Regions from separate parts of the Homo sapiens genome. Here region 2 is linked to region 1. The links come from fine-mapping of genetic effects on gene expression. A gene starts in region 1. The other region holds a variant in brackets. All regions are shown on one strand. Distances are between the middles of the regions. Region 1 holds the start of JMY (junction mediating and regulatory protein, p53 cofactor). Region 2 overlaps JMY (junction mediating and regulatory protein, p53 cofactor).

The links. PIP is the estimated chance that this variant, and not a neighbour inherited with it, causes the effect.
Region 2: its variant is fine-mapped to the expression of JMY in monocytes (Schmiedel 2018, PIP 0.90).

What each region holds. Positions count from the first base shown.
Region 1 is chr5:79,227,158-79,242,642 of GRCh38, forward strand. It overlaps JMY (junction mediating and regulatory protein, p53 cofactor), which reads left to right and starts at 8,974. Exons shown (of 11, transcript NM_152405.5): 1 at 8,974-10,525. The coding sequence starts at 9,494. LOC124901011 (a long non-coding RNA gene) reads right to left here and starts at 8,866. Exons shown (of 2, transcript XR_007058836.1): 1 at 8,654-8,866. RefSeq lists enhancers at 2,540-2,619, 9,428-10,064, 10,116-10,535 and silencers at 8,876-8,925, 8,966-9,015, 9,046-9,485, 9,656-9,925, 10,209-10,503.
Region 2 is chr5:79,312,235-79,327,719 of GRCh38, forward strand. It overlaps JMY (junction mediating and regulatory protein, p53 cofactor), which reads left to right. Exons shown (of 11, transcript NM_152405.5): 8 at 169-264; 9 at 2,023-2,617; 10 at 3,766-4,076; 11 at 9,372-14,977. The coding sequence ends at 4,073. It overlaps LOC102724530 (a long non-coding RNA gene), which reads right to left. Exons shown (of 3, transcript XR_001742756.1): 3 at 4,775-5,400. Among named protein-coding and RNA genes, the nearest start is that of JMY, 84 kb to the left of the region's middle. The variant GTCTTT/G (reference allele first, on the strand shown) is at 8,107.

The sequences.
Region 1 (15,485 bases):
CACCTGTAATCTCAGCACTTAGGGAGGCTGAGGTGGGAGGATTGCTTGAGCCCAGGAGTTGGAGACCAGCCTGGGCAACATAGGATAACTGGTATCTACAAAAAATAAAAGATTACCTGGGCGTGGTGGCACGCACCTACAGGTAGTCCCAGCTACTCCAGAGGCTGAGGTGGCAGGATCGATTGAGCCTGGGAGGTCGAGACTGCAGTGAGCCGAGATCGCAACACTGCACTCCAGCCTGAGCAATAGAGCAAGACTCTGTCTCAAAATAAATAAGTTAATTAAATAAAATAAAACTCCAGTACTGATCAGTAGTGGGATTCAGCCTGCAAATAGCTGCTGCACTCCAGCCTGGGCAAAATAGTGAGACCCCAAGAATATAAAAATAAAAATAATAAAACTTTAAAATTTGTTAGATGTAAACTTTGTTCACCTTCTCAACTGTCTTCAATTGCCCTTCTTTCCGAAGGCACTGCCTGTATCCCAGAGCACCCCGGCACTGCTGCCCTTGCAGAGATCAGTGGCCTGCATGCCCCACTTGTTGAACCTCTCTGTGCTAAGTCACCCTTCATTTCTAGGTTGGCTGAAATGCCACACTGGAGCACAGACTCTGGCTTCCTGAAGGGCTGGATGAGGCAACATGGAAGCGTGAACTCCCTGTGGGGTGAAACTTGACTCTGAGGAAAGGAGAAATAGGAAGGAACCAGACAGACATGCTCCCTCTTCTTTCCATTTACTCCACTGAGTAAGATTTCTTCTTGTGTCCCTTTTGGGAAAACCCCCCTTGCTGAGGAAGAACATGTACAGAGTGACCTACCACGTCTCCTAAAGTGGTGCCAGGGCTCTCAGGGATCACTGTGCAGAGCTTCCCAACTTTCCTCACATCATTTCTTTCTTTTTCCTGTCTAGCCACTCGGGAGTTGAAAATAAGGATAATTGGCCATAATTGATATAATGTACAATACCAAAAAGGGTACTCATAGCAGATCAGGACACGAACTGCTCAGATCCCCCTTAAAGAATTTGCTACTGAATGCAAGGAGTGAGGCTGCATCCAGGGGATGATGAAACTTGCTACCAGGGTACTCCTAGAAGCCTGAAAAAAGCAATGGCCCTCACAGAGACTGTATTAAAATGCTTCCCATGGTATAGGGAAGAGAAAGGGAGTAAAAGGCTCAGGAAGTGGGAATGCTGGAATGGATAAATTACACGGGGCCAAAATAAGGAGTATGTTCTCCAGGAAAGCTCAAAGGACACACATTTACCAAGAGCATTAGTAATATGATGATGGCAGGGGCCCTAGCATGGTGATGAAGTTCAGTGTGGCTCTCCTCCACAGGCCAGGGTTAATGGTCAGTGAAGCAGTCACATAATTTGGCTCACGAATAGCAATGGCGATGAAAAGACCTGAACAACAGAGGCCAGGTGGTAGCACTTCACCACCAAAAGCCAGAGGGTCACAATGTCCACAGTTATGGTTAATAGAAAACAACATCCCTGGGGGCAAAATAGCTGGGCAGCCAACAGGCACTGCTTAATGTACATGATCAAAATAGAGCAAGGGTAGATGAGCAGGAGGTTGAGGGCAGTTACCCAAAAGGATCTCTCTTGCCCAGTTTCTGCACCTAAATCAGTTTTCAGACCTAGTGCCCATTGCTTTAAGAGATGGCCAGATCCCAGTACCAAGAACCCTGCAATACATAGTGATTTCTCCAGTTCTTCTGTGGAAGACATGAGTGACTGTTCACTGGAGTGAGGGATTTACTCCAACATTCCAGGAACTTCTGGAGACAGGGTCCAAGTTGACACAGATACCCAATGACTGGAAACATCATCATGGGCTGTGTTAGAGGGGGGGCCTACAGGGGCCAGTAAATGAAGCCCTGGCCCAGGAGTGAGTCCAGTGGTCTATGAAACTACCTGGTGAATATTTCCCTGGTCCCCAAATATCTCATTGGGATTGACACTGTGGCAGAGTAACCCACAGGCTGTACCTGTTGGTGGGGGCTATGATAATGGGGAAGGTCTGGTAGAAGCCTCCCAAACTGCCTCCCTCCCACCAAGATAGTGAATCAAAACCAGTATAATCCTGGAGAGGGATGGCAGAAGTTAGGGCCACTCTTAAAGATGCAGGCATGCTGGTCCCTAACCTACCTCTGTTTAATTTGCTGGTCTGGTCCTTGCAAAAACCAGACAGATCCTGGAGACTAACGTTCAACCAAGAAATAGACCTGATCACAGCTGCCTGGCCAGATGTGGTGTCTTTCCTAAAACAGATAATACAGTCTCTGGTACACAGTATGCAGCCACTGATTTGGCAAATGTGTTCTCTTCTATCTCAGTTAGGAAAGAAGATCAGCAACAATGTGCTCCAGGGCCATGTTAATTCTTTGACCATCTGTCATAATATAGCCTGAAGACATTGGGACCATCTGGACAAATTGCAGAATATCATGTTGATTCATTCATTACATTGATGACATCATGCTGATCAGGCCAGGATTAGTAAGAGAATACTATCATGCTGGAAATGCTGGTAAGGCACATGCACTCTAGAGCGAGATAAACCGTAAAAAAATTAGGTACTTTCTACCTCAGTAAAGTTTCTGCACATCCTGTGGTCAGGACATTCCCTTAAGAGTAAAGAACAGGCCTGTGTGTTGTTGCCACTGCCATTGTTGTCATGGTGGTTGTGCTGAGCTCTGTGGTTTCTAGAGCCGGCTATGTCCCCTCCCTGCCACCACCCTGAAGTGGATGTTCAAGGAGAACCACTCGCTAGAAAACAGATGCGTGCAGTTCCCGAAGATCAGAGTAAAATATCCTGACCGGGTTCCGGTGATTGTGGAAAAAAAAAGTCTCAGGCTCTCAGATTGTTGACACTGACAAACGGAAGAACTTGGTTCCATCTGACAGCCATTCAGTTCCATCTGTGGCTCAGTTCTTGTGGATCATCACAAAAAGGATCCATCTTCCTTCTGAAAAGGCATCTTCTGTTTGTGGATAAAACAGTCCAGCCTGGTGAGGCATGGTGGCTCATACCTGTAATCCCAGCACTTTGGGAGGCCGAGGCAGCTGGATAACCTGAGGTCAGGAGTTCGAGATCAGCCTTACCAATATGGAAACACCCAGTCTCTACTAAAAATACAAAAAATTGGCCAGGCATGGTGGCACATACCTGTAACCCCAGCTACTCGGGAGGCTGAGGCAGGAGAATCGCTTGAACCTGGGAGGCAGAGGTTGCAGTGAGCCGAGATGGTGCCATTGCACTCCAGCCTGGGCAACAAGAGCGGAACTCCATCTCAAAAAACAAACAAACAAACAAACAAAAACCAAAAAACAGTCCAGCCTAACTATAGGAGAGCTTTACTAGAAGGAAAAAGATACAGATGGAATCTTGTATGTGGCCTCCAGTGGGGAGAACACTTTTGGTTTCCGAGGACCACTGCTGTGCTAGGTGCACCCTTACTGCTTGTGTATCTTGTAAATGTCCTAGCACCTTGGTAAGCCAAGGCAGGAGGACAGCTTGAACTCAGGGGTTCGGAACCAGTCTGGGCAACATAAGGAGACACCCGTCGCTACAAAAAAAAATTAGTTGAGCGTGGTGGCGCATACCTATGGTCCCAAGCTACTCAGGATGTTGAGGTGGGAGGATTGCTTGAGCACAGGAGGTAGATGCTGCAGTAAGCCAAGATTGCACCACTGCACTCCAGCCTGGGTGACAGAGCAAGATCCTGTCTTAAACAAACAAACAAAAATTAAAAAGAAAAGAGAAAAAGGAGCACCAGTTGTGGCTGCGAGATCAGCTGTGGCTATGGAGGCTGTAGTTTGCCCCAATAACCTCCCTCTTTTGTTTTCCCTCGGGAACAGAGGCCTACCAGAGCCCTAGAGGAGATGCTTCCCACGTGTTTTTATGAAGTGGATCCATGTGGCACACAAGGTAAACTGTGGCAGTTGTGAAGATGTGTCAGTTAGATCCCCCTTCTAGAAAGGAGCCACCCCTCAGCTGCAAGGAGTATGGTAAGTGGACACTCCCCACCTGTTAGTGTCTTCAGCATCAGCTTCAGGTTTTTATCCTGTGCTTTTCTCAGGGTGGTCCCCAGCCAATGACTGAGCAAGGCCTGGCTATATCTACCCAATGAGAGGAACTTCTTTTTTTTTTTTTTTTTTTTTGAGACAGAGTTTCGCTCTTGCTGCCCAGGCTGGAGTGCAATGGTGTGATCTTGGCTCACTGCAACCTCCTCCTCCTGGGTTCAAGTGATTCTCCTGCCTCAGCCTCTCAAGTAGCTGGGATTACAGGCATGCGCCACCACGCCTGGCTAATTTTGTATTTTTAGTAGAGATGGGTTTTCTCCATGTTGGTCAGGCTAGTCTTGAACTCCTGACCTCAGGTGATCCACTCGCCTTGGCCTCCCAAAGTGCTGGGATTAGAGGTATGAGCCACCGTGCCTGGCCATGAGGAACTTCTTTAAGGGAAATTTTTGCCTCAGAACTCCCTGTTGGATTAGCCTGCCTGATTCTGCCTCTGCCCCTTCCCCTTCTCTTCCACAGGGGTCGCCTCCATACTTTTTTTTTTTTCGTTTTGAGACAGAGTCTCACTCTGATGCCTAGGCTGGCGTGCAGTGACATGATCTCGACTCACTGCAACCTCCACCTTTCGGGTTCAAGCGATTCTCGTGCCTCAGCCTCCCAAGTAGCAGGGACTACAGGCTTGTGCCACCACGCCCGGCTAATTTTTATATTTTTAGTAGAGACGGGGTTTCACCATATTGGCCAGGCTGGTCTCATACTCCTGACCTCAAGTGACCGCCCACCTTAGCCTCCCAAAGTGCTGGGATTGCAGGCATGAGCCACCGCACCCGGCACCCCATAAATTTTTTGCGTTCCTACTTCTCAGTGTCTGCTTCCGGGAGAATCTAACTGAGACACCAGTGGATTTGCAAATGGACCCCGGAACTGAAGTTGCTCCCTGCTCCCAACCCTGGGATGTGTAACCTAACTAATCTGAACTGCTGTTTTCTCCTATATAAATTAAAGATGCTTATTCCTTTCATACCTACATTTCATGGTTATTATGAGGTGAGAAAATGCTATATAATTTGAAAATCACTATGTAAACTATTATAGTTTTTATGAAAAGTTCTAAAGAGTTAAAGCATTTCCTGAATTACCTAAAGATGCACAATAGTTCTAAAAACTTCAAACAGATAATAGTTTTAAGCCCTTTGAAGGCTGGTATGGTGTATGTGGGGTTTTTCTGTAGCTTTGCTTATTCCCAGGGAGTAACTTATACACTGAGAGATCTTGCTTGGCAATCAGATACAGACCTAAACAAAGAATTGTAGAGTACTATAGTAACCTATCATGGGAATTTTGGTTTGTTTCTCTTCATTTCTAGGATAACAGTTACTAACATAGCACGAACAAGAAACACTGAAACATCTCATTTGACAAAACACAGTGGCCAGTGTATTGAGAGGAAATACTTAACACCTGTGTAACTGTGAACCAATTTTGTGTATCACTATTCTGATAAGATAAAATTTTCTATCCATGAATAAATATAATTTCATGTTATTTTACTCTTAACACCACTTGACGAAATATTATAATTTTAATATACGTGCACATAAAATATTTCTTATAACATTCTTTATTTCCATTTATTTATTTATTTTTGAGACGAAGTCTTGCTCTGTTGCCCAGGCTGGAGTGAAGTGGCGCAATCTCGGTTCACTGCCACTTCTGCCTCCCAGGTTCAAGTGATTCTCCTGCCTCAGCCTCCCGATTACAGCCTGGGATTACAGGTGCCCACCACCACGCTTGGCTAATTTTTGTATTTTTAGCAGAGATGGGGTTTCACCATGTTGGCCAGGCTGGTCTCGAATTGCTGACCTTTAGTGATTCACCCACCTCGGCCTCCCAAAGTGCTGGGATTACAGACATGAGCCACCACACCTGGTCTATTTATTTATTTTGAGACAGAGTCCCACTCTGTTGCCCAGGCTGGACTGCAGTGGTGCGATCATGGCTCACTGCAGCCTTGACCTCCTGAGCTCAAGCAGTTCTCCCACCTCAGCCTCCCAAGTAGCTGGGACCACAGGTGCATACCACCATGGCCAGCTATTTATTTTATTTTATTTTTTATTTTTATTTTTTTGAGACGGAGTTTTGCTCATTGCCCAGGCTGGAGTGCAATCGAGCAATCTCTGCTCACCGCAACCTCCGCCTCCCGGGTTCAAGAGATTCTCCTGCCTCAGTCTCCCAAGTAGCTGGGATTACAGGCATGTACCACCACACCTGGTGAATTTTGTATTGTTAGTAGAGATGGGGTTTCTCCATGTTGGTCAGGCTGGTCTCGAACTCCCGACCTCAGGTGATTCACCCGCCTCAGCCTCCCAAAGTGCTGGGATTACAGGCTGGAGCCACCGCGCCCGGTCTATTTTATTTTTTTGTAGAGGCAGGGTCTCCCCATGTTGCCCAGGCTGCTCTTAAACTCTTGGGCTCAAGCAATTCTTCCAAAGCATTTGGATTACAGGCATGAGTCACTGTGTCCAGCCATCCAGCCAAAATATTATTATTTTTTATTTTTTTCAGACGGAGTTTCGCTCTTGTTGCCCAGGCACTGGAGTGCAATGGCACGATCTCAGCTCACTGCAACCTCTGCCTCCCGGGTTCAAACGATTCTCCTGCCTCAGCCTCCCGAGTAGCTGGGATTACAGGCACCTGCCACAACGCCCAGCTAATTTTTGGATTTTTGGTAGAGACGGGGTTTCACCATGTTAGCCAGGCTAGTCTCGAACTTCTGACTTTGCGATCTGCCCACCTTAGCCTCCCAAAGTGCTGGGATTACAGGCGTGAGCCACCGCACCCGGACTATTTTTTTAAATAATAATTTTTTTCTTTTTCTTGTCCTCTACTCTGAAGAGAACTTGTAAACAAATTCTTTTAATACTCATTCTCTGTATTCACAATTATACATAATGGGATCATGTCAGTAATGCTTTATCAGAAAAACTAGCTTTTTGCAGTTGCTTTTTAGCAAAAAAGAAGAGAAAGTTTTCTACAATGTGCTATTGTTTGCTTAGCTGGTAATTCAAACCTTTTTTCTTTTTTCTTTTTTGAGGTGGAGTCTCTGTCCCCCAGGCTGGAGTGCGGTGGCATGATCTCAGATCACTGCAACCTTCGCCTCCCGGGTTCAAGCAATTCTCCTGCCTCAGCCTCCCAAGTAGCTGGGATTACAGGCACGTGCCACCACACCCGACTAATTTTGTATTTTTTATAGAGACGGGGTTTCACCATGTTGTCCAGGCTGGTCTTGAACTCCTGACCTCAAGTGATCTGCCCACCTCAGCCTCCCAAAGTGCTGGGATTACAGGCGTCAGCCACCATGCCCAGCCCCGTAATTCAGATTTGAAATGGGTTTTCTCTCTTTTTTGCCTTTCAGAACGTGTCTCTGACTTGCATTTGAGATTTGACACAAACTCAGTTACAAACTTTGAAAATTTGTGGTTTCAAATAATGAACTGTACAAAATGTTAAAAACCAGCTGGGCTCAGTGGCTCACGACTGTAATCCCAGCACTTTGAGAGGCCAAGGCGGTCGGATCACCTGAGGCCAGAAGTTCGAGACCAGCTTGGCCAACATGAAGAAACCCCGTCTCTAATAAAAATACAAAAATTAGTCGGGCTTGGTGGTGTGTGCCTGTAATCCCAGCTACTTGGGAGGCTGAGGCAGGAGAATCGCTTGAACCCGGGAGGCAGAGGCTGCAGTAAGCTGACATCGTGCCACTGTGCTCCAGCCTGGGCCACAGAGTGAGACTCTGTCTCAAAAAAAAAATTTTTTTTGGCTGTTTATTCAAATATCAGGACAATACTGAACCAAGTGTTGAAGCTTAGAGTTTAAGATGGACAATACTGAACTAAGTTTGAAGCTTAGCTAGTTCAGTACTGTTCTGTCATCTGAATAAACAGCTGTTTTTACTGAACCTAACAATACAAGGCTAATCCAAACGGTTTTGTATATACTTTAGAAATGTGAATAAATGTAAAAGAACTAATTTCCATTGTGCTTTACTATGGTGCACAACATCTGTGACTTGAATACTAATCGGAAAAAGAATGCCAATAATTATTATAAAGTCTACTAATTTTAAGAATGTGTTTCATCATAGTTTAGTAAGAATAGCAGAGATTGATATGACTGTTTTTGTATATGCATTCTGGGAACTCCCATAATTGAATACAACTTCAAAAGGGCTAAAGCCCAGTGACCTCAAAACGAGGTTCACAGAACAGTACATAATGATGAAACCTGAAGCAATAAAACACCAATGAACTGAAATGTAAACATTCATGCTGTTAGGACATGGCATTTTCATTTTTCATTTTGTTTTGGACTGTTACTGGGCTTTCCTCAGACACCTTCCTTTCATATATTAAACTCTGTCTTTCCAGAAAAGCTTCTGGAATTGTTTTTGTTTTTTGTTTTGGTCTCAAGGGCATTAGGGGAGAACCTAACAGGCTGGGGGCGAGCCCCACATAGTTCAGCACACCGTTCCCCGCGGCAACACGCTACTTCTGAACGCAGGAGCGACTCTCCGTCCGGGCTCCCTCCAGGAGAATGGAGGCAAATGTACATTCGAGGGTCTCAATACCTGGAATTCGAAACGTCTCAGTTCCTCCGCCTTAGTTCCTCTTTTCCCGGGTTCGGAGGCCACCTGTGCAGCAGGGCACACCTGCCACTCTCATCGCCCTCGGAGCCGGCAACCAGCCGACAGCCGGCTCCAGCCCCGGGGAACTGGAGGCTGCGCGGAAGGAAGGAGAGTCGGGAGCGCGGCCGCTCGCGGGCTGGCTCAGGGGACGCCGAGAGGAGGCGCCGGCGCGCGCGGGCGGGGTGCGCGCGCCGCCGCCGCCGCGTCACCAGCGTGCGGCACGTGCCCATGTTTACGTCCCTCGTGGAGCCGCCGACGTCAGCAGTCGAATGGCAACATTGTGGCGATGCTGAGGCGCAGAGTTTAGGAGACGGGTTCATCAGTCAGGCCGGCTCCGGGCTTTCTGCAGCAGCACCAGGGGCGGGGGCGGGGATCTTGACCTGGGCGAGCGACCGGGACGCATACAGCGCCGGCCTGACCCCGCGGGACCCGCGCCTCACCACCGGAGCGCCGCAGACGCAGCTCCACGGCCTCGCGCGGGGGGCGGCGGGCGGCCGCGAGGCGCTGCGGCAGCGCGGAGCTTGTAAACAGATCCGGCCGCAGGTGACCATGTGAACTACCTGCTCCCGGGACGCTTATTGTCCTTCTCTCGATCCGCGCCACAAAGGAGCTCGGCGGTCGGGGCGCGGAGGGACAGGCGAACGAGCCGGGAGAGCCGGCCGGCGCACTAAGATGGCTGAAGGCGCCCGGCGAGGGTGAGCGGGGGGCGCGGCGCAGCCAGCGGGGAGTCCTCGGGCGGGCCGGGCCGGCGGCCCTTCCCCGCGGCGAGAAGCCGGAGCCACCATGTCGTTCGCGCTGGAGGAGACGCTCGAGTCGGACTGGGTGGCTGTGCGGCCCCATGTGTTCGACGAGCGCGAGAAACACAAATTCGTCTTTATTGTGGCCTGGAACGAGATTGAGGGCAAGTTTGCCATAACCTGCCACAACCGGACGGCCCAGAGGCAGAGGAGCGGCTCCCGGGAGCAAGCGGGGGCGCGAGGGGGCGCCGAGGCCGGCGGAGCTGCGTCCGACGGGAGCCGCGGGCCCGGCAGCCCGGCGGGCAGGGGTCGGCCCGAGGCCACTGCCTCTGCAACTCTGGTTAGGAGCCCCGGGCCCCGGCGGAGCTCGGCCTGGGCGGAGGGCGGCTCTCCTCGGAGCACTCGCAGCCTTCTGGGGGACCCGCGGCTGCGGAGTCCTGGCAGCAAAGGGGCGGAGAGTCGTCTTAGGAGCCCAGTGCGGGCCAAACCCATCCCGGGTCAGAAAACATCTGAAGCCGACGATGCGGCGGGGGCAGCCGCTGCAGCAGCCCGGCCGGCGCCCAGAGAGGCCCAGGTGTCCTCTGTACGGATAGTGAGCGCCTCTGGGACGGTCTCCGAGGAGATAGAGGTGCTGGAAATGGTGAAGGAGGACGAGGCACCTCTGGCGCTCTCGGACGCGGAGCAGCCGCCGCCCGCCACCGAGCTGGAGTCTCCGGCCGAAGAGTGCAGCTGGGCCGGACTGTTTTCTTTCCAGGACCTGCGCGCCGTGCACCAGCAGCTGTGCTCGGTGAACTCGCAGTTGGAGCCGTGCCTGCCGGTGTTCCCCGAGGAACCTTCGGGCATGTGGACTGTGCTGTTTGGGGGCGCCCCCGAGATGACCGAGCAGGAAATCGACACTCTGTGTTACCAGCTCCAGGTCTACCTGGGCCACGGCCTGGACACCTGCGGCTGGAAGATCCTCTCCCAGGTGCTCTTCACCGAGACCGATGATCCCGAGGAGTATTACGAAAGCCTCAGCGAGCTGCGGCAGAAGGGCTACGAAGAAGTGCTTCAGCGGGCCAGGAAGCGCATCCAGGAGGTGAGTGAGTGAGCTCCTAGTCTGGGCTCTACTGGTCGCTTTTGGTTTACTGGCCAAACCAAAGGCTGGAGCCTCGGTGTCGGGTGTGCGCAGTAGGACGGTTGTTTTTCTGGACAAGCGGAAACCAAGAGGGGTTCCTGATCTACCTTGCCCTTCATCCCTCTCGGTGGCTGCTTAATTGACTCTCTGAAGGACCTTCGTCTTTATTTCCTCCCCCATTTATCAAAAGTAGTAAGTGCGCTCTGTGTACTACTCAGTACTGGTAATGCGCAATTAAAGCCACTAAGAAAAGTGTTCTGTAAGCATGGGCTACCTGAGCATTTTTCTACCCCTAAAGCTCTTCCAGCAATAACTGCCCAGATGTCAACTCTTCTTTGTCCTTGTCACCTTTATTTAAAATAGTTTGTCTTACGGAGCAAAGTTGATCTGTTTTGATTCTTCTTTGTGCAGTGTGGCAACCTACGCAAATTTTAAATTCATTTTTAAACGAGTGACCTAAGTGAAAAAGCACCTAGTGACTATCGGATGCAAATTTATTTTTAAAAGGTTTTTTAGAAGTGTTTTGTTTCTTTTTTTTTGGACTACCTCAGGTCTTTACAGATGGCTCAGGTTTCACTGCTGTTTTAGGTAGAAATAAAGATTCTGGGCAGGAATGTTCGTTGTATTTTTGTACTTACTGTAGAAGTACAAAAGCCTTTTCAAACTAATCCTTAAAATAACAAAAAAAAAGTGGAAGAAAGGGTCTGAATGGATATACATATGGGGCTCTAGAATGTGTAGGAAATGTGTAATTCATGCCTGCTCACTAGCTTCTGCTGAAGGAACTTTACTAAAAAAGTCTTTTAAAATAGACCCAGTTTTCCCTAATGGATACTACTACACGTAGTTTCTCAAAGCAAGTTACTGTTTTTACTATTAATGCAATTGAGATTGGTGGAGAAATGCACCCCCGCCCTCCGCGCCTTCTTTTTTTTTTTTTTTTTTGGAAGCAGTTTTGCTCCGTCTCCCAGGCTGGAGTACAGTGGCACCATCTGGGCTCACTGCAGCCTCCCCCTCCCGGGTTCAAGCGATTCTCCTGCCTCAGACTCCTGAGTAGCTGGGACTACAGGTGCGCGCCACCACGCCCGGCTAACACGTTAGCCCGGCTACTTTTTGTGTTTTTAGTAGAGACGGGGTTTCACCATCTTGGCCAGTATGGTCTCGATCTCCTGACCTCGTGATCCGCCCGCCTCGGCCTCCCAAAGTGCTGGGATTACAGGCGTGAGCCACTGTGCCCGGCCTGAAATGCCCCTTTTAATGGTGTTTATATTCCTAAGATTGTGTTGTTATCTGCTTATGTATATATAATAGTTGAACCTTGTTGTTAGATTAGGGAGCTAGAGCCTCATGTTTTTTTCGTAGAATATTAGATATTTTTCTTTATTAGATTTGAGTATTTAAGAAATGTTTGTTTCTCACTTATACCATAGTACTCTCTTACAACTTCCCGAATCCAGATTTTCACTGCTTCCTGTTGGTTTACTGTATGCTAAATGTCACCCACTATAACATGATCCTAGAGTTCCAGGGATCTGTTTTTATTTCCCTTTTTTATCACCTCACTTCGGGAGTCTACCTTAAATTATTTTGAAGGAAGTGACAAATCTTAAGTGACCACATATATTCTCAGAAGTGTTTGGTTAATATTGACCTGTATTTCTCTTAAACTGCAAGAACCGTTAGTGCTTCTTTCTCTTATTAGATTTACAGATATATTTTTTAAAATACATATTCTTAAAAATCCCTTAATGAATGGGCCTGTCTGATTGTAACTTTTTGGATACTCAGAAAAAGCGACTGTCAGGCCGGTCGCGGTGGCTCATGCCTGTAATCCCAACACTTTGGGAGGCCGAGGCGGGCGGATCACGAGGTCAGGAGATCGAGACCATCCTGGCTAACACGGTGAAACCCCGTCTCTACTAAAAATACAAAAGAAAAAATTAGCCGGGTGTGGTGGCGGGCACCTGTAGTCCTAGCTACTGGGAGGCTGAGGCAGGAGAATGGCGTGAACCCAGGAGGCGTAGCTTGCAATGAGCTGAGATCATGCCAGTGCACTCGAGCCTGGGCGACAGAGCGAGACTCCGTCTCAAAAAAAAAAAAGAAAAGAAAAAGAAAAAGAGAAAAAGCGACTATCTCCGGTTTTTTAATTCAAATGGGTCAAAAATAAGCTCTCAAAAAATATAATTTTCTAGAACTCTTTAAAAAGGGGATTACATTTTTTAAAAAATGTGTTCCTAATTAAGGTTCTCTTGACCATAATGATTTATTTTCTTTAACAGAAAATTATACTTTTTTTCTTTCTTTTTTTTTTTGAGATGGAGTCTCGCTCTGTCGCCCAGGCTGAAGTGTAGTGGCGCGATCTTGGCTCACTGCAACCTCTGCCTCCCGGGTTCCAGTGATTCTCCTCCCTCAGCCTCCTGAGTAGCTGGGATTATAGGCGTGTGCCACCTTGTCCGGCTAATTTTTGTATTTTTAGTAGAGATGGGGTTTTACCATGTTGGCCAAGCTGGTCTCGAACTCCTGACCTGGTGATCCGCCTGCCTCAGCTTCCCAAAGTGCTAGAATTACAGGCGTGAGCCACCGCACCCAGCCTCCCCCCGCCCCCTCCAAACAGAGTTTTGCACTATTGCCCAGGCTGGACTGTACTGGTGCAATCTCAGCTCACTGCAACCTCCACCTCCCGGGTTCAAGCAGTTCTCCTTGCTCAGCCTCCCAAGTAGCTGTGATTACAGTCGCCGCTACCATGCCTGGCTAATTTTTGTATTTTTGTAGTGACAGGGTTTCCCAGTGTTGGCCAGGCTGGTCTTGAACTCCTGACCTCAGGTGATCTAACTGCCTCGGCCTCCCAAAGTGCTAGGATTACAGGCGTGAACCACTGCACCCGGCAACTTCAATATTTGAAAAATAGCCATCAAGGACAACAAATAGTTTCAGTAATAATGCCTATCTTGACTTCTGCTGGAAGATTGTGTCTTTAGATTATATTGGGGGAGGGAGGGAAGTGTGGTGTGATTGATTGGTGATGTCTGCCATGGGCATGATAATGAAAGTGTATAGGATGCTAGCCATGTATTTGTCTTAAGCTAATTAAATTTAACTTTGCTTTCTTAATAGTTTGCAGTAACATTTTTTAAGGTAACATTTTTATAGAAGTTGTGCCATGTTTGTGTTATTCTATTGACTTAGTTTGTGGAATTGGCTATAGCTTTTCAAGCTAGGTTTATCTGATAAATCAAATGCATTCTTGAGGATATGTTACTTTTGAGGATATGTTAGAATGCTTAGTCCTTTGGTCACTTACAATACTTAGTCCTTTTCCTTCTTTAATTTCTATGAATCTATTTTTTGGTCTTTTTTCCTACAGTATTCCTTTCCCTGTCCATTTAAAGGTTTCAACTTAAAATCACCTGTTTTTGTTCAAAATGGTTAGTAAGTTGTTGAACTTTTTTTTGTTTGTTTTTAATAGAACAGACTGTACAACTAGATTGTAAGCTTTTCAAGGTCCTTGGCTTTGACAATACCTTGGAACTCTCTTCTTTGCCACCCCTAGTTCAGGACCACACATCTTGTGAGCACTCTTAATTAGTGGATAAAGGAAACTAGAGAAGTTTTTAAAATTAATTTATTCTTACTATTGCAAGAATTTAAAGGACTTAGAAGATGTGTCCTTTTAATGTGAAGTTGTAAGTAAAATTTTTATAAATTGATAAGTGTAAATTCCTCAAAGGACAGTGTTTTTAAAACGAGAAATTTTCTTTTAGTACTTCAAAGGAAAATTTCTTAAAACATAAATAAATTCCTCAGTAAGAGGTTTTTACTTGGGGATGGTGAATTCCCTGTAAGAGGGGCTATGGATGGATTTTAATGGGGCGTCCTGCCGAGTTTTATATCTGTGGGCATGTGTGCATTTTAGAGAGAAAGGCAATAATGTGAGTCACAGGAATGTTTTGGTTTCACAGTGCGTTTAAAAGTTATGTTTATGCTATAATGTACATTATACTTCTTAGGGGCTAAATCCAAGTGAAAGGTGAAATTTGTTACTGGTATGTTTGAATTTGGACTTTTACAAGAGTTTACTATTGGAAGCAGTATTTATACAGTAGACACTGAATCAGTCCTTAAATGAATGCAGGTGCCACCAAGACCTCTTTGAACAGTTTTCAGCAGTAGCCTTGGTTGTTGGTCAGAGCTGAGGTTTGTATTAGTGTATGTGCGTTGGTGGCCCATACTGCAGCTTAGGTTTGACCTGGATTTTATAAATAATGGTTTCTGTATAAGGACAGCTATTCTCAAGATGATTAACTGTGGTGCTTTAGATAGTAAACCTTAATTATGATGGTAGGCTTGATTAAGATCTAATCATCAGTGTTCATTTTGGAATTTATTATGTTTATAAAGATGTGCTCAATTCTAACTTCTCTTCTGTTGAAACCACGGTTTGGAAGTAGCATGTGTTTTCAAAATTATCCGTGTAAGCCACATAATAAATAGCCTGTTGAGTGAGTGGAGTCAGAAACACCTAGGTTGAAAATAGGACTAACCACTTCTGATGACCTGCTTAGTTATTTAACCTCTTTTAAAAAGGAAGGTGGGGGAAATAAAGGATGTCTTAAGATTTGAGTAAGACAGTATGAGAAAGGGCCTAACAAAGTGCCTGGCACTTACTAAAGAGGCTTCCAGGAAGTGTTATTTTCCCTTTTTTCATGTAACAAGGATTATCTGGTTTTCCATTCAGCCCTTTTTGTGGGGACTGTAACTAATATTTATTATTCACTATCTGCTGAGATCAGTGGGTGTTTTATACCTATTTTACTGAGGCAGAAAATGAGACTTAAAGAGGTCCTGTGGACTTCACCAAGGCTAAACAGCTGAGTAACCAAGCTCCGATGAAAGCCTAGATTTGTCTTAATCCAAACGTGTG
Region 2 (15,485 bases), 85 kb after region 1:
TCATGTTTCATGAAGTATTAAAAATATTTCATGTTTCATGAACAAAAAAAAATTTTGTTCAGTGAATCATCCCCTTTGGCCCACATTAGGATAACTTCTCATCTTTTTTCCTATTAATGATAAAAATTGGGACACAGCATAATGGAATTATTATTAATTTTTTACCAGAAGAGAGAAAAATTACATGATGAAGAAGAAAGAAAAAGTGCCTGGGTTAGCCAAGAGAGACAGAGAACACTGGATAGACTTCGAACATTTAAACAGGTATTAAAAGTAATGGTCCATTTATTGTTTTTCTTTTTTTTTTTTTTTTAACAGAGCTACATATACACCTGTAGGATTTCTTTGTGGGAAAAACTTGGTTTTCCCTTATTTATAAACTATTATAACCATGGAAGTCCTTTTTAAAATTGTTTTAATGGCATGGCTCCATTTCCTCTGGTGGTTTTCCGAATTTAGTATTCTTGTGACCTTTGACCCACAGCTTCAGTAGTATAAGAGGAATGATAAGGGCCTCTGGGAAACCTAGATTCCTCTTGAGTTTAAAAAATTAGTTAAATCACAACTGACTATCCAGCTCAAGCATCAGCATGTTATTTATTCCACATACATCAGCCTGTGGTGGTAATACATCAAATGACCATTGGCAGAATTAGAGGTGGAGGGGAGCAGCATATTTGAGAAATGCTTCAGCAGTTCTCTTGCCAGGGTAAGCCATGACCACACACTGATACCACAGTATCCACACATCTCCTCAGAACTGTGCTGAAGCCTCACAGTTCTCATTTTTAAAGTACTCTGGAGCCTTACTTCAGTTATGCATGCTGAAGGATCACTTTGTAGGTGAAGTAGGCTTTTGAACAAGTGTTACAGTGGAAAAAAAGGAGGTGAGGCAGGGGAAAAGCCTTGTTATTAAGTAAATGTGGCTCACGCCTGTAATCCCAGCACTTTATGAGGCTGAGGCAGGTGGATTGCTTGAGCCGGGGAGTTCAAGACCAGCCTGGGTAACATGGCGAAACCCTGTCTCTATACAAATTAGCCTGGCATGGTGGAACATGCCTGTGGTTCCGGCCATTTGGGTGGCTGAAGTGGGAGGATTACCTGAGCCAGGGAGGTCATGGCTGCAGTGAGCTGTGATCATACCACTGCACTCCAGTCTGGGCAACAGAGTGAGACCCTGTCTCAAAAACAAACAAACAAACAAAAGGTCTTACCATGGTAAAATATATATAAGAGTTCTACCAGTAAGTACTGAAAAAAATGTATTTCTCTCTTCATTCTGTCATAAAATGGATATATAGTTGATGGAGCTTTTTAAAAATGCCAAGTAACCTGTTAAAGAATATTTTAATTTTCTCGTGTGTGCATTTGAAAACATAGGAAACTTTTTGCATACCAGTAGCATTTATACATTTGACATCACTTATGTTTTGCATTTTACATGCTATTTGTTTTATACATTTAGTAGTTTTATTCACTAAAAATCTTTTTTTAATCATAATTTTGAATATTTGAATTATCAATCGTGGATTTGATAGGCAAATAATAAATTCATAATTGTTTGTAAGCTATTATTAGGTACTTTCGGATTTTCTGTATAACTTTAAGGGTGAAATAACCAATAAGCCAACATAACATTTTTGAGATGGAATCTCACTCTGTCACTCAGGCTGGAGTGCGGTGGCACAATCTCGGCTCACTGCAACTTCCGCCTCCCGGGTTCAAGCAATTCTCCTGCCTCAGCCTCCTGAGTAGCTGGGACTACAGGTGCCTGCCACCACACCCAGCTAATTTTTGTATTTTTAGTAGTGACGGGGTTTCACCATGTCGGCCAGGCTGGTCTCAAACTCCTGATCTCAGGTGATCCACCCGCCTCGGCCTCCCAAAGTGCTGGGATTACAGGCGTGAGCCACCACACCCGGCCACATAACATCTTTTATTTGAAGGAGAAAATAAATAGGCATGTGCTCATAAATTGTTTCAATAACATTTAACCAGTTCCAATAACTTCTGGTATTTTAGAGGTATCCTGGGCAAGTCATACTTAAATCAACCAGATTACGACTAGCTCATGCAAGAAGAAAAGGTGCAGCAAGTCCTGTTCTCCAAGAGGATCATTGTGACTCTTTACCAAGTGTGTTACAGGTAGAAGAGAAAACTGAAGAGGTGGGAGAAGGAAGAGTCAAGCGTGGGCCATCACAGACAACAGAACCCCAGAGCCTTGTGCAACTTGAAGATACTTCATTAACACAACTTGAAGCCACCTCATTACCTCTCAGTGGTGTTACCTCTGAACTGCCTCCCACTATATCTCTTCCACTTTTGAATAACAACCTCGAACCATGTTCTGTTACCATAAATCCACTCCCATCCCCTCTTCCTCCAACACCACCACCTCCCCCACCTCCTCCCCCTCCCCCACCACCACCACCTCTGCCTGTTGCTAAGGACAGTGGCCCAGAGACACTGGAGAAAGATCTGCCTAGAAAGGAGGGGAATGAGAAGAGGATCCCAAAGTCAGCCAGTGCCCCCTCAGCACACCTCTTTGACAGCAGCCAGCTGGTCAGTGCACGGAAGAAGCTCAGAAAGACTGCTGAAGGTTTGCAGAGGAGGAGAGGTACGTCAACATATTTTCATGGTCCATCTGTTGTATGACATCAGGCATAGTAAAAAACTATATTTTTTGACGTTGCAAAGCTTAAAACACTTTATTTTTGACATTATTTGATAGTAAACAGGTTTTCAAAGTCACACTAGAGGAGAATTCTTAGTGCATAAAGTACACAGAAATGTATGCCTTCTTGGGCTGTTAGGCATGTTTTAAAAACAGATCTTCTAAAGTGATACATTCATGTTTGGTAATGTATAATGGGTGGCTCCTTTTGTGTTAGGGAAAAAGTTTTGATTTTAAACCTGAGATTTTTAAAAAAATACTCATATCAGAAAGGGTAAGATATCTGGTAAGGACTGTCACCACAGGGAAGACATTGGCAGGATCATGTAACATTTGTTCATACATTTGTTGAGGACTTTTGTGTATTTGTATAAAGAAGCAAAGAAGAACAGGGAGTAATCTGTTCAACTTACAATGTGACAGATGTGCCTCAATAAGGTTACTATTTTTTTTTCTAATTTTTTTTGTTAAGAGAGATTCAAGCACAAATAAAATTATTTCTAAAAAGAGCAGAGAATAACCCTTGCCTTTTGCCTTTAAGGAATTTGCATTTTGCATGGGGAGAACATTATATAAATGTTACATATTACTTGTATATTACATTTTAACCTGAAGGACCATTCTATAAAACATTTCTTGATGTAATCTGAGTAGGATTTCACATGTAAAACAACTAAATGAAAAAAGCACAGTCTCCATAATAAACAAAAATTAATTTTTAAAAACAAAATGTGTAACCCCATCACTCTGAATTTGGGTGGAGCAACTGCAATATGGAAATCCTTTGGGAATCACACCCATAATACTACTAAGACCACCTCCCAGTTCCCAATCTGGTCACTTCTCTCATGTAGGAAATGATAGGAATACCAACAGTACCCACCATGGATTGGGTCTTGGGATTTTCTAAAAAGAAGGATAATTAGGATCCCTTGTGTTCTGATCACCTTCTGCACACATTTCATGATCCATTTTGAAGATGGTGTTTCAGCGTCCTGTGCTTTCACAGTTGCGAACGGTAGAGGTTATACAGTTTCATTCTAATTAAGTGCAGTCCTAACTGTAATACTGTTCTGTTTCATTTTCCAAAGTGAGCTCACCCATGGATGAGGTGCTAGCCTCCTTGAAGCGTGGTAGTTTTCATCTGAAAAAGGTTGAACAGCGAACTCTGCCTCCTTTTCCTGATGAAGATGATAGTAATAATATCTTGGCACAAATAAGGAAAGGGGTAAAATTGAAGAAGGTACAGAAGGATGTTTTGAGAGAATCCTTCACACTTCTACCCGATACAGACCCTCTAACACGGAGCATCCATGAAGCTCTTAGAAGAATTAAAGAAGCATCCCCAGAGTCAGAGGACGAAGAGGAGGCTTTACCTTGCACAGACTGGGAGAACTAACAAGTAAACGGCCTTATTGTCTTTAGTAGCATTCAGTAATACAGGTTTTATATCGGATGATGAGGTTTGGGGTATTTTTTATTGAGCCTGAGGCATATCGTTTGTTTTATAACCCAATTTTAGCATGGATCACAAATTTATGAACTTCAGGTTTTACTTAATTCTGTAGTTTCTAGAAACTTAAGATAACTTTTTAATGATTATTGCTATGTAAATACTATTTTTAAAAATGTCCTCCTCATTAAAAATTTCTGCTATACAGCTGTAATTGCAAGTAAAGTGACAGTCTCATTCTTGCCCTAAAAAAACAGAAAAGGGCCTGGCACAGTGGCTCACACCTGTAGTTCTAGCACTTTGGGAGGCTGAAGCAGGCAGATCACTTGAGGTCAGGAGTTCAAGACTAGCCTGGCCAACATGGTGAAACCTCTTCTCTACTAAAAATATAAAAATTAGCCGGGCGTGGTGGCGGGCATCTGTAATCCCAGCTACTCGAGAGGCTGAGGCAAGAGAATCACTTGAACCCAGGAGGCGGAGGTTGCAGTGAGCTGAGATCGTGCCACTGCCCTGGGCAACAGAGTGAGACTCAGTCTTAAAAAAAAAAAAAAAAAAAAAAAAGGCTTTCCAGGTTCAGTGGTTCGCTTCTGTAGTCCCAGTTACTCAGAGGTTGAGGCATGAGGATCTCTTGAGCCCAGGCGTTCAAATCCGGCCTGGGCAATATAGCAATACCCCGTCTGTAAAAAGAAATCAATACGTCAATTTTTTTTTTAATGCAAAGCCTTTTCTGACAAAGTATTTCAGTAACAAACTGTTATGCACACTGAATTTTGATGTCATGTTAGCTGACCTCAAAGGAGTTTTCTAAGATCATTCTGGAAAAATTGTTGCATTGTCTGATTATTTAACTTTCTAAACCCTTAAAAAAAACTACTTATTGTCACAGTTACTGTATTATCTAGACAAATTTGCAGGTATCATTAATATATAAAAATTATCTACATATCTAATGAATACTCCTATACATATTAAGATTCTCTTTGGTTACACATGTAGCATTCTCCTAATATAATAGAGAGCTATAGTCTACTACATTTTAATATACTAATTATAGAGTAATATGGCACAGATTACACCAAATATATAGAAACATTAAAGATAACATGGTATAAATTAAACAGTATATCAAATTTATAATGATGGTAACTGAAATGTTGTAATTTGTATAAAATTTATAGAGTATACAAACATGTTCTATTAATTATTATTCTTTCTTGATGGAATATGTTTCTCTAGGCTTCAAACATTCACCAAAGTAGGGAAGACTTGAGTCCTAGAAGGGAATAAGTAAAGGAATAATTAATTCATGTGTTAGCCCTGTGAATTATTTTTGTTGAATTTCTTTTTTTATTTTAGAGACAGAGTCTCCCTCTGTTGCTCAGGCTGGAGTGCAGTGGCACGTTCATGGCTCACTGCAGCCTCAACCTTCTGGGATCAAGCATCCCAAGTAGCTGGGACTCCAGACACATGCCACCATGCCGGGCTAATTTTTTAATTTCTTTGTAGAGACAGGGTCTCCTTATGGTTGCCCCGATTAGCATAATAATTCTTAAAACATGTTTGATCATAAGAATTAACTTGGGGAGCTTATTAAAAATGGACATTCTGTCCTTGACTTAAGAATTCTGAGTAGAACAACAAAGAAAAAAAATCTTTTTTTGACAGGGTTTCACTCTCTCACCCAGGGTGGAGTGCAGTGACATGATCTCGGCTCGCTGCAAGCTCCACCTCGTGGGTTCAAGTGAATCTCGTGCCTCAGCCTCCTGAGTAGCTGGGATTACAGGCGACTGCCATGATGCCCGGCTCTTTTTTCTTTTTTTTTTTTGTATTTTTAGTAGAGATAGGGTTTCACCATCTTGGCCAGGCTGGTCTCGAACTCCTGACCTCAAATGATCTACCCACCTCAGCCTCCCAAAGTGCTGGGATTACAGGTGTGAGCCACCATGCCTGGCCCAAAAAAAAGAATTCTGAGTAGATCTAATGTATATGCAAGTACACATCTAGATTTTGAAGACATAATATAAAAATGTAATGTATGTCAGTTTTTAAACAACTGATTACATATTGAAAGATTCTATTAGTTACATTAGGTAAAATATTACTGAAAGCAGTTTCACCTGTTCCTTTGGGTATGGGTTCATTAGGTAAATATTCCTGTAGTACCTCTCCACCAGCATCTGCATCAATCAATAACTTAAAAAGGGTAATATTACATTCACCATGATTCAGCCAACATTCAGTAGTAGCATTATCCTGCTTTTTTTCCTATTATGTATACAGTTACATGTAACAGTCACTTTGTATGACTTATGTTTTTGGATCCCAAAGTAACTTCGAGTTATTTTTGCTTGTACATATGTCCACTATGCTTTGTAAAGGAATATATATATATATATATATAGAGAGAGAGAGAGAGAGAGAGAGAGAGAGAGAGAGAGAGAGGGATGCATATCAGTTTGTGAATGTCTAGACTCTCAGGTATGTCTAACTGGGAATCTTTTCCATAGTGGATATTTGTAGGTTGTCTCCCACTTTACAGTTCTTACTACCATGTGTTGTTTCCTTCTGCTGTAGCTTCTCAGGAAGCTGCTTAAGCTTGTGCCTAAAACTACCATCTTTGCACTGACTAATTCCACAGCTGGACCTTCACATAAATGTGTGTTTAGCTCTTTCATTACAGATGGTCCACAGTGGCCCATTCACAGCACACCAGCAGCTGCTCAAGTCAGCCTATCCTTGTCTGTCTCCTCCCATCCCACCATATCCTGCCTAACCCTAGACATTGCATCAGCATTTTGTATACTCAAGTGGCTGGGATGTTACTCATAGCTTCTGGCTACTAATTTAGCCTTAGTATCAGATGTTAACATGGTGCATGGTGTATACACTTTGAAAATTGCTTAAAACTTTTTTCGGGGGTGTGGGAGACGGCTGATGGCTGGAATATGTGGTACAATGTTGAGAGAGAAACAGTGAAACACTTAGAAAATATATGAGCTTGGAAGTTTGCAGTCTCCCTTTACTAAATGTGTGCTAACCCAGAAGCAAACCATAGACTAGTATGGACTGATTAGGCAGTGATGAAGTAGCTGTGTATCACTACTTTGTGATCATGGAGACTAAAAGGCTGTGAACTTTTTATCTACAAATGGCTAAGAAGGCTTTACCGCAATTTGTATTTCCCATTAATTTATTAGATTCCTTTTTTTTTTCTCTCTCTCTTTTTTTCTTTTCTTCAAGACTGAGTTTCACTCTTGTTGCCCAAGCTGGAGTGCAGTGGTGTGATCTTGACTCACTGCAACCTGTGCCTCGTGATTCAAGAGATTCTCCTGCCTCAGCCTCCGGAGTAGCTGGGATTATAGGCGTGTGTTACCACTCCCAGCTAATTTTTGTATTTTTGTAGAGATGGGGTTTCACCATGTTGGCCAGGCTGGTCTCAAACTCCTGATCTCAGGTGATCCACCTGCTTCTGCCTCCCTAAGTGCTGGGATTACAGGTGTGAGCCACTGTGCCTGGCCAGATTTCTTGATTATAGATTTTGTCATTAATGTACTTATATACTTTTAAGAGCTAATTTCTTGAATATTCATAAAGTAGGTAATGAAGGTCCCTTGTTCTGCCTTGTTCGTTCCCCTCTGAAACTCTTCTCTTTCCAGAGATAGCCATAGTCATGCTCAAGGAAATTTCTTAAAATGTATGTAATTACATAGAGGTTTAAAATAAGTTTCAGGCTGAGTGTGAACTTTAAGTTTCAGGCCTGTAATTCTGCAGTACTTCAGGAGGCTGGGGGTGGGTGGATCACTTGAGCCCAGGAATTCAAGACTAGCCTGGGCAACATGACGAAACACATCTCCACTAAAAATACAAAAAGTAGCTGGGCGTGGTGGCTCACACCTGTAGTCCCAGCTACTTGGGAGGCTGAGGCAGGAGGAAATCTGTCTCAATAAATAAATAAGCTTCTAGTTTGTTTCCTGTGAGA[GTCTTT/G]TTTTTTTTTTTGAGATGGAGTCTCACTGTGTCAGCCAGGCTGGAGTGCAGTGGCGCCGTATTTGGCTCGCTGCAATCTCCATCTCCCGGGTTCAATCTGGGATTACAGGCGCACCACCATGCCCAGCTAATTTTTTTGAAGTTTTAGTAGAGAGGGGTTTCACCATGTTGGCCAGACTGGTCTCGAACTCCTGACCTCAACTGATCCACCCTCCTCAGCCTCCCAAAGTGCTGGGATTACAGGCGTGAGCCACTGTGCTAGGCCCCTGTAGGAGTCTTCTAAAGTAACTATAGCAATGTAGTTCAAAGGAAATATAGTTTGAGACATGTAATTTTAAAATGTCCAATAGTCACATCAAAAATGAAAAGGAACATGTGAAACTGATGTTTGTAATATTTTATTTGACACAATGTAGCCAAAGTAGTATCCTTCAACACATAATCAACATTAAAAACTAAGGACATTGCTTTCTATTTCTTTTTTTCACACTAAGTCTTCAAAATTCAGTGTATGTTTTATATATACTAGTAGCACATCTCAGTTTGAATGCTAAGGATCTGATACTTAATGAGAAATGTCCTACCAAAACAGCAAAATTGTATTTAATGGAAAAATAGTACTTACTGTTTTAGATTTTTAAATCAAACTGGATTTAAATCAAACTAGATCAGTCACACTAGACACATATCAAGTGCTCATTAGCCACATGTAGCTACAGTATTAGAAAATGCAGAACTGTATTAAGTTGGTACTTTATTCATGTTCCTGTCAGCTTTTATCTGAAGAGTATGTCTTTTATATAAATGCTCCTGTGCTTTGGGTACGCCCCATAGATCTTAAGCACAACACTTTTCAATAAAATGCCCGGGTGAAGTATCCATTTAAAGATTGGTATTAATCCTGTCCTCTAAATGTTAGTCTAACAAAAACAGTTTCTACTGCATTTTGAAGACACCATTTAGTTGTTCTTACTCTAGTAGCAGTTTATGGGGCAAATAGTTTAGACTGAATTTACCTTTTTAGTATATAGTTTTCATACAGTGTTAGAGTAAAAATAATAAAAATGAAAATCTAATAGTCTTTTAAAAGTGATCAAAATCTGTATTTAGATTATTTTGTTTTCATTTTTACTGCTTTAAGAATACAGTCATGGCCTTTTGTAAAAAATGTCTTTTTTACACTTTTTGAGGGAACGTAAATACACTGTATCTTTAAAGGGTCTTTTTTTTAATGGTCTGTATTATTTTGTTTGTAAACAGGTGACATAACAGAAGAAAAATATCATTCAAGATTGGTTCTGATTCTTTTGGAAAATGACAGTTTAAGCACTTGGTTCCTCAGTTGGATAACATTAGATCCAAAGTTCATTGGTTCAGTGGTGTGAAGAAAGGAAGCACAATTGGCAGGTTATCACTTTCCAGTCGTTCCAATAGATGATGGTTAACATGAATTTTACATGTGCAATGTTCCTGACTGCAATGAAGAAAAGGCCTTCTGGAGATTTCTGTTTTTTAAGCACATTCTCCTTCCATCCACATATTTACATCCTTGTAATGGCCAGTTAAGCTAGGGCTTGCTGTAAGTTGGAAGAACACTGGGTTGACAGAGATCTACTGTGAGCTGTATTGGGACTGCTTTGAGAACCATCTTTCAATGCACTGAAAAGTCATCTGAAAAAATAGCTTCTTCCATATCAGCTTATATTAAATACTGTGACACTCTGAGAAAGTTTATCATCATGATAGCTGTAAGTCAGGCATTAAAATCAAATGGAAATACACCTAAAATGTCCGCATTACTCATTTCCAAAGGATTTTTCATAAAGATGTTCAGCAACATCTGAAAAGCTGCATTTATGGAGATACATCTATTAATATGTTCACAACATGATACATTTAACATGGCATATTTTTAGGAGTCTTATACTTTGTAAGGTTTTGAAGTTTCCGTGCTTTTAAATCACTCTTCATATTTCTTGAATTTATAATAGTTTGAATTTTATGTGCATCCTTGTTTATGGAAGGCAGTACTTTGATAATATTTCAAATTATTTTTATTTTGTTTGAATTATTGCTTGATTGCTATGACTGACATGACTTTCCTATTGAGAATCAAAAATCAAGATTCAATCATAGGGATGCAGATCTTAACTCTTTTCACAAATTACCATTTTAAGTTTTTATTTTTATGCTCCACAGTGAAAAGCATGTGCTCTACAAAGATAGAAAGTAGAGACAAGTCTCCGTGGCTGGCATTTCACCATCTTCACATGCACTGAATGGAATTTTGGGAGAATGCCTTTGTTATAGTCACTAAAATTTTAAACTTATACACAGCTTTAGGTGCTGATTTTGGCTGTGATGGAGTCCTGAAGGACACATTTATATGTTCCAGATTTTCAGCAGGATTGTTGTGGGCTTGAATACATGTAGATCATTGGACTCAGTGTGCAGTACCCTGTACATATAATTCTGCATAAGACAGATCTTGGCCTTTCTGTGGAGGGAGTTAAGAACTAAAATACCAAAAATCACTTTATTTCTTTTAAGACAATTATCTGGCCTAAACCCAGAAAGCAGTACTGGAGCAAAAGCCCAGTGTATATGAATTGGTATTCCTAGAGAAAAAAAGAAATGCTCACACCTTTGTTATTTTAAAGTGTTTTCTTGAAAATAATTAGGGAGAAAATTTTCTGGCAACAGGTTATGTAAGACAACAACTTTTTTTATTATTTCAAAACAAAACAGGCACATGCCACCATGCCCCAGCTAATTTTTATATTTTTTATAGAGACAGGGTTTTGCCATGTTGCCCACGCTGGTCTTGAACTCCTGGACTCAAGCAATCTGCCAGCCTCGGCCTGCTAAAGTGCTAGGATTATAGGCGTGAGCCTCTGTGCCCAGCCTGACAAAATCTTTTATTTATTTAAATGTTAGTAATACGTTTATTGATGAGACTAGGAGCTTCTCTGCAGCATCTTCATAATACATTGGTTTTAGTTCCCACACTATTCCCACATCTTATCTGGGAAGATTAGAAATACAGATGTAATATGGAAGCTTCAACAGCATGGGGGTGGTGATAGTGTCCTATTTGCCCTTGGTAAAATATTAAAGCGTATTTCTTAACCCAAAGAGTGATTGGTTATATGAATATATTTGAAAAAGTTAAAGCAAATTTGCAAACCTTTACAAAATCATGTATCAATTTTATGCTATCCAGTTTTTACGTACCCATGTGTCAACATTTCATATATCCAGTTCTTTGGGTGCTGGTTCACTTTTTTTCATTTATTCAAATTCAGAAAAATACGGACGGATCTAATGTTAAATTAACCAGAAACCCTGGAACATTCATATCTTGAGAGGGAATTTGCTACTCTTTTACTTTTGGGATTTCATTATAAAATAGGCTCATTTTATACATATGTCCTGTGGTCTGTCTTCCAGAGTGTGCTGTAATCATAAGTCTCTAGCAAAGAGTGGAGGGTGGAGGGTGTGTAGAACTCCACTCAGCCTCATGGATACATCTACAAGTCTCTCAACCCATCCTGTTACAGTTCTCCATGAGAGTCACCTCACACTTGGAAAAGAAGGAGGTTAAAGCAGAGTATTGTTGGCAGCCAGCTATGCCCATCCTCTTGTAAATAACTTTCCAACACACCCATTTCCTTGCCTTAAGGTGCAGGTTCCTACTTCTACAAAATTTCAAATGATTGCAGGTCAAAAACCTTTGGAGTTACTCACAAATAATAATAAAATTTCAAATAACTAGGGTCTACTTGTCCATCAAGATGACATTACCAGTGGAACCCACCTGTTAATTTTAAAGTAGCTTCAGAACCCAACAAAAATTATGTAAGCCTGGTTAAATGTCCTTTTTTCTTCTTGCCTCTAATAAAATCAGGATCTTCGGCCTTGATACTAAATATGTGTATATTTAGTTATGATGGTACTTGTAGATGCTCACATTTCCAGTTCCAAACTCGCCCGTACTTTTTATGTGCTTCAAAATATTGGACACATTTCTGTTAATATATGATTTCTGTATCCACAAACCGCTGTTTGCTTATGCTGAGTCAATTTAGAAGTTAATTTCCAATCTAGTCTCAACTGCAATGCATTTAAAATAGGTAAAACAAGTAAATGAGTTTGGGACATTTTGAGATTAATGTTACTGCCCACTTGACTGTCAATTTCAAATGGCTCCTAATGCAACCAAAATTATAACCAATGTAGCATGTGTAGGAAAGGTATTTTTAATTATTTAAAATCATTGTGTATATTACAGCAGTATGAGGAATGCCTGGCTAAAGAGGATTTTTTAAAAGATGAAGAATGGTTTTGCTTGTATTATATAGGCTTACTGAGTTTGTGAGCAGCATAAAAACAATCATTCCTTAATTCTTCATTGTGGAACTGAAATATTTCTGTAATGCATTTTTTAAAAGGAGACTCCTAGACACAGCTGTAATAGTGGGAATAGAAATGTAGAGCTTTTCTCATAACACAAAACCAGAAAATAATTTTCAGCACTTTGACTTACTCTATGTAATAAGGAAAAAAATTGTTTCCACAAAGTTGAACTATGTAGTAATATTTGGTAACATATGGCATGGCCACTTTATATCACAGAATGTGTGTCAAGTTGCAAAGCATACTTGGGCCATAGTAGACACTAAGAATTAAAACTCTTAAATCAGTGAAACAAAAACTAATGGGCAGCATTCTCTCTGTTTGGAATGGGATCAGTATACAATTAATACAATTTAATTTTACACATTCCCTAAGACACCATTTTTAAGTTACAGTCACATGAGTGTTTGTATAAATTTAAGTCAATGCTTTTAGCCTAGGCAAAGCTAAATACAAGGTTTTTGGGGTTTTCTTTTTTCAGCTTTATTATTGAAGTATTACAAACTTAACATCAGATACCAATGTGTAAAAAGTACTATTGGGTCCTTAAGGGCTCTATCAGGGAGTTGAAATTTCATACGCTTTACCAGGTTACTTGTAAAAAATGAACAGCTGTAAGACATTTCAAAACCATTGCAGACACATTGTTAAAATGCAGCCATTTGATAATGAAAGCAGAAACCTTAAGTTTTACCTAATTATTGCACTAAATGTAAATGATAACATAAAATTAAGTGTGCATTTTAAACAGATTCTATTTCCCACTTACTGCTTAGCATAGAAAAAGAGCTATGGTTAGAGGAGTGACCAGCAAGATTTATTTCAGATGGAAAAGGGGTGAGAAAGTGGAAGCACCTTACTGTTAGAGCATGTTGCATCTATTTAGTGCTACTGAACAATTCAGTAGTTATTTCTGAACTTTGCTGCAAAGTGCTCTTTAGTTAAAGCACATTAAGAAGGGTCACTGCTTAATTGCTTTGTAAAATGAAGCAATGGTATTTTTTATCCGATATAGTGTAATTTAAAAGTTTTCCTACAAAGTGAGTTTATATTGTTGCCTAAACTATGTTATGTAAGCAAAGGGTTTGGAAAGGCGGGAGGGAGTCTAGATTCGGCGAGAGTGTGCGTTTGTGTGTGTGAATGTATGAAAAGTTTCCCCATTGGGTTATTCTTAAGATGTGTTTATTGTAAAGTTTTCTACGTTTTGCCCACAGTAAATGTACAACTTCGCAATTGTAGGATTTAATTGATTGAATTCCAAATTTATACTGTCTCTTCCCTTCTGCAGAGACATTATGCCACTGTAAGGTGCATGTACAGAAAATACCTCTGAGGTTGACTTGTTAAATAACTGATGAATGTTATTTCACACTGAATCTCAAAGCAGTCATTTGTTTTGCGGGTTAGGGGAAAGTTTTGTTTTTTGCTGGTGTTTTTTGTTGTTTTTAATTAGGCACACTAAGAGTGGCTAAATTTGGGGGAATTGGTGGATAGGAAAGACCTTGAAAAGTGATGTGTAGATGAAAACACAAGGTATGGATGTTGGTTACAGAGTTCAGTTTTAACAAGGGAAATTTGGGGATTTTTTTTTTTTTTACTTGCATGTTCTATGGGTAGCTATCAAAGGGTGTAACAAATTATTCCAGCTTTTCCCAATACTAATTATATTGGTTTTAAAAAGTCTGCATAATCACTAGGTGGCATTTTCCCTTCATTTGTGAACCAAGAGGGGTAAATGATGCTACCCATACAGTGACTTCTGAGTTCTTTAACTTTGACAGAATCTCCATTGTTTCATTGAATTTCTCATTGTATTATATGTCTTTCCAAGTGTGCAAACTATAATATGTAGTTAATGAAAAATGGAAGGCTGCAGATTATTTTGCATGAATAATTAATTGCCCATTAGGGCTAAGGAGACTGACATGATTTTTATCGGTTCTGGGTAAATGAAAATTTTAATGGAAAACTCATTCACCATTTACTAGCTTTGTGCAATATTATAAAAGGTAGAAGCAAAACACTAGCACATTGTGCTTTGCTTGGCTTGTAAGGATGGCTTTAGTACCATTACATTAAATGGACAGTGTGCACAGTGTATTGTAAATGCCAACTCTTGCAAATTTACAATACTTAAATATGTTCAATTAACATCCTAAAGTATTAAAAGTACAGAGGAAAAACTAAGCAAGCATTTATAGCAATACCATGAAATCTCCAGTAATCGTTTTGACTGTTGCCTTTTGCTCTTTAGTGCAGCTTTTCTGCATTGTAATTGTATTGCTTTGTATTTCATGTTTTTTACACTCATGACTTCAGAGTTAAGTACTTGTACACCAAGTATTGCAATCACCTTTCTCTTGTTGTACATGCAATGTAACAACCTACAGTTTTGGTGCTTTTAACAATATTCCTCTTTTTCTTTAATAAAGGATATTTATTTGAATTAATTAACCTGATTTTGTTTGTTTAAAATATCAGTGGTACATATTTTCACTTCATTTCAAATAGGAGGACCATAGCAAGTTGTATATCTGTTATGACAAAAGTTATAACATGGAGAACAGGATCCAGAGACCATCCATGCCTGTATTTCTGCCTCTTCCTGAGCGCTGTTTGTTGTGACATATTTTGATGGCAACTTTCTTTGTGCTATTAATGAACTTTCTCATTGTTTATAAATATTCACAAAGTTTGGAAGTGCTGACTTCCAAATTGGAAAATTTTTAAATGGGGGTGGGGAGAGGCAGAAAAATATTTATAAAGTTACACACTCAGATCAAATAGATCAAAATCTCAAAAATAGAACAGAAAAGAAAAGAAGAAAAGAAACATAGATCCCCACCAATGCCTCAGCAGTTGTTTGTCTCACTTCCAGTGATACCCTGAAAACTGTAGTATCTGAAATTTTCCCTTAGTCTCAGGAATTTCTACTTACACGCTTTCAGAGCTAGAACA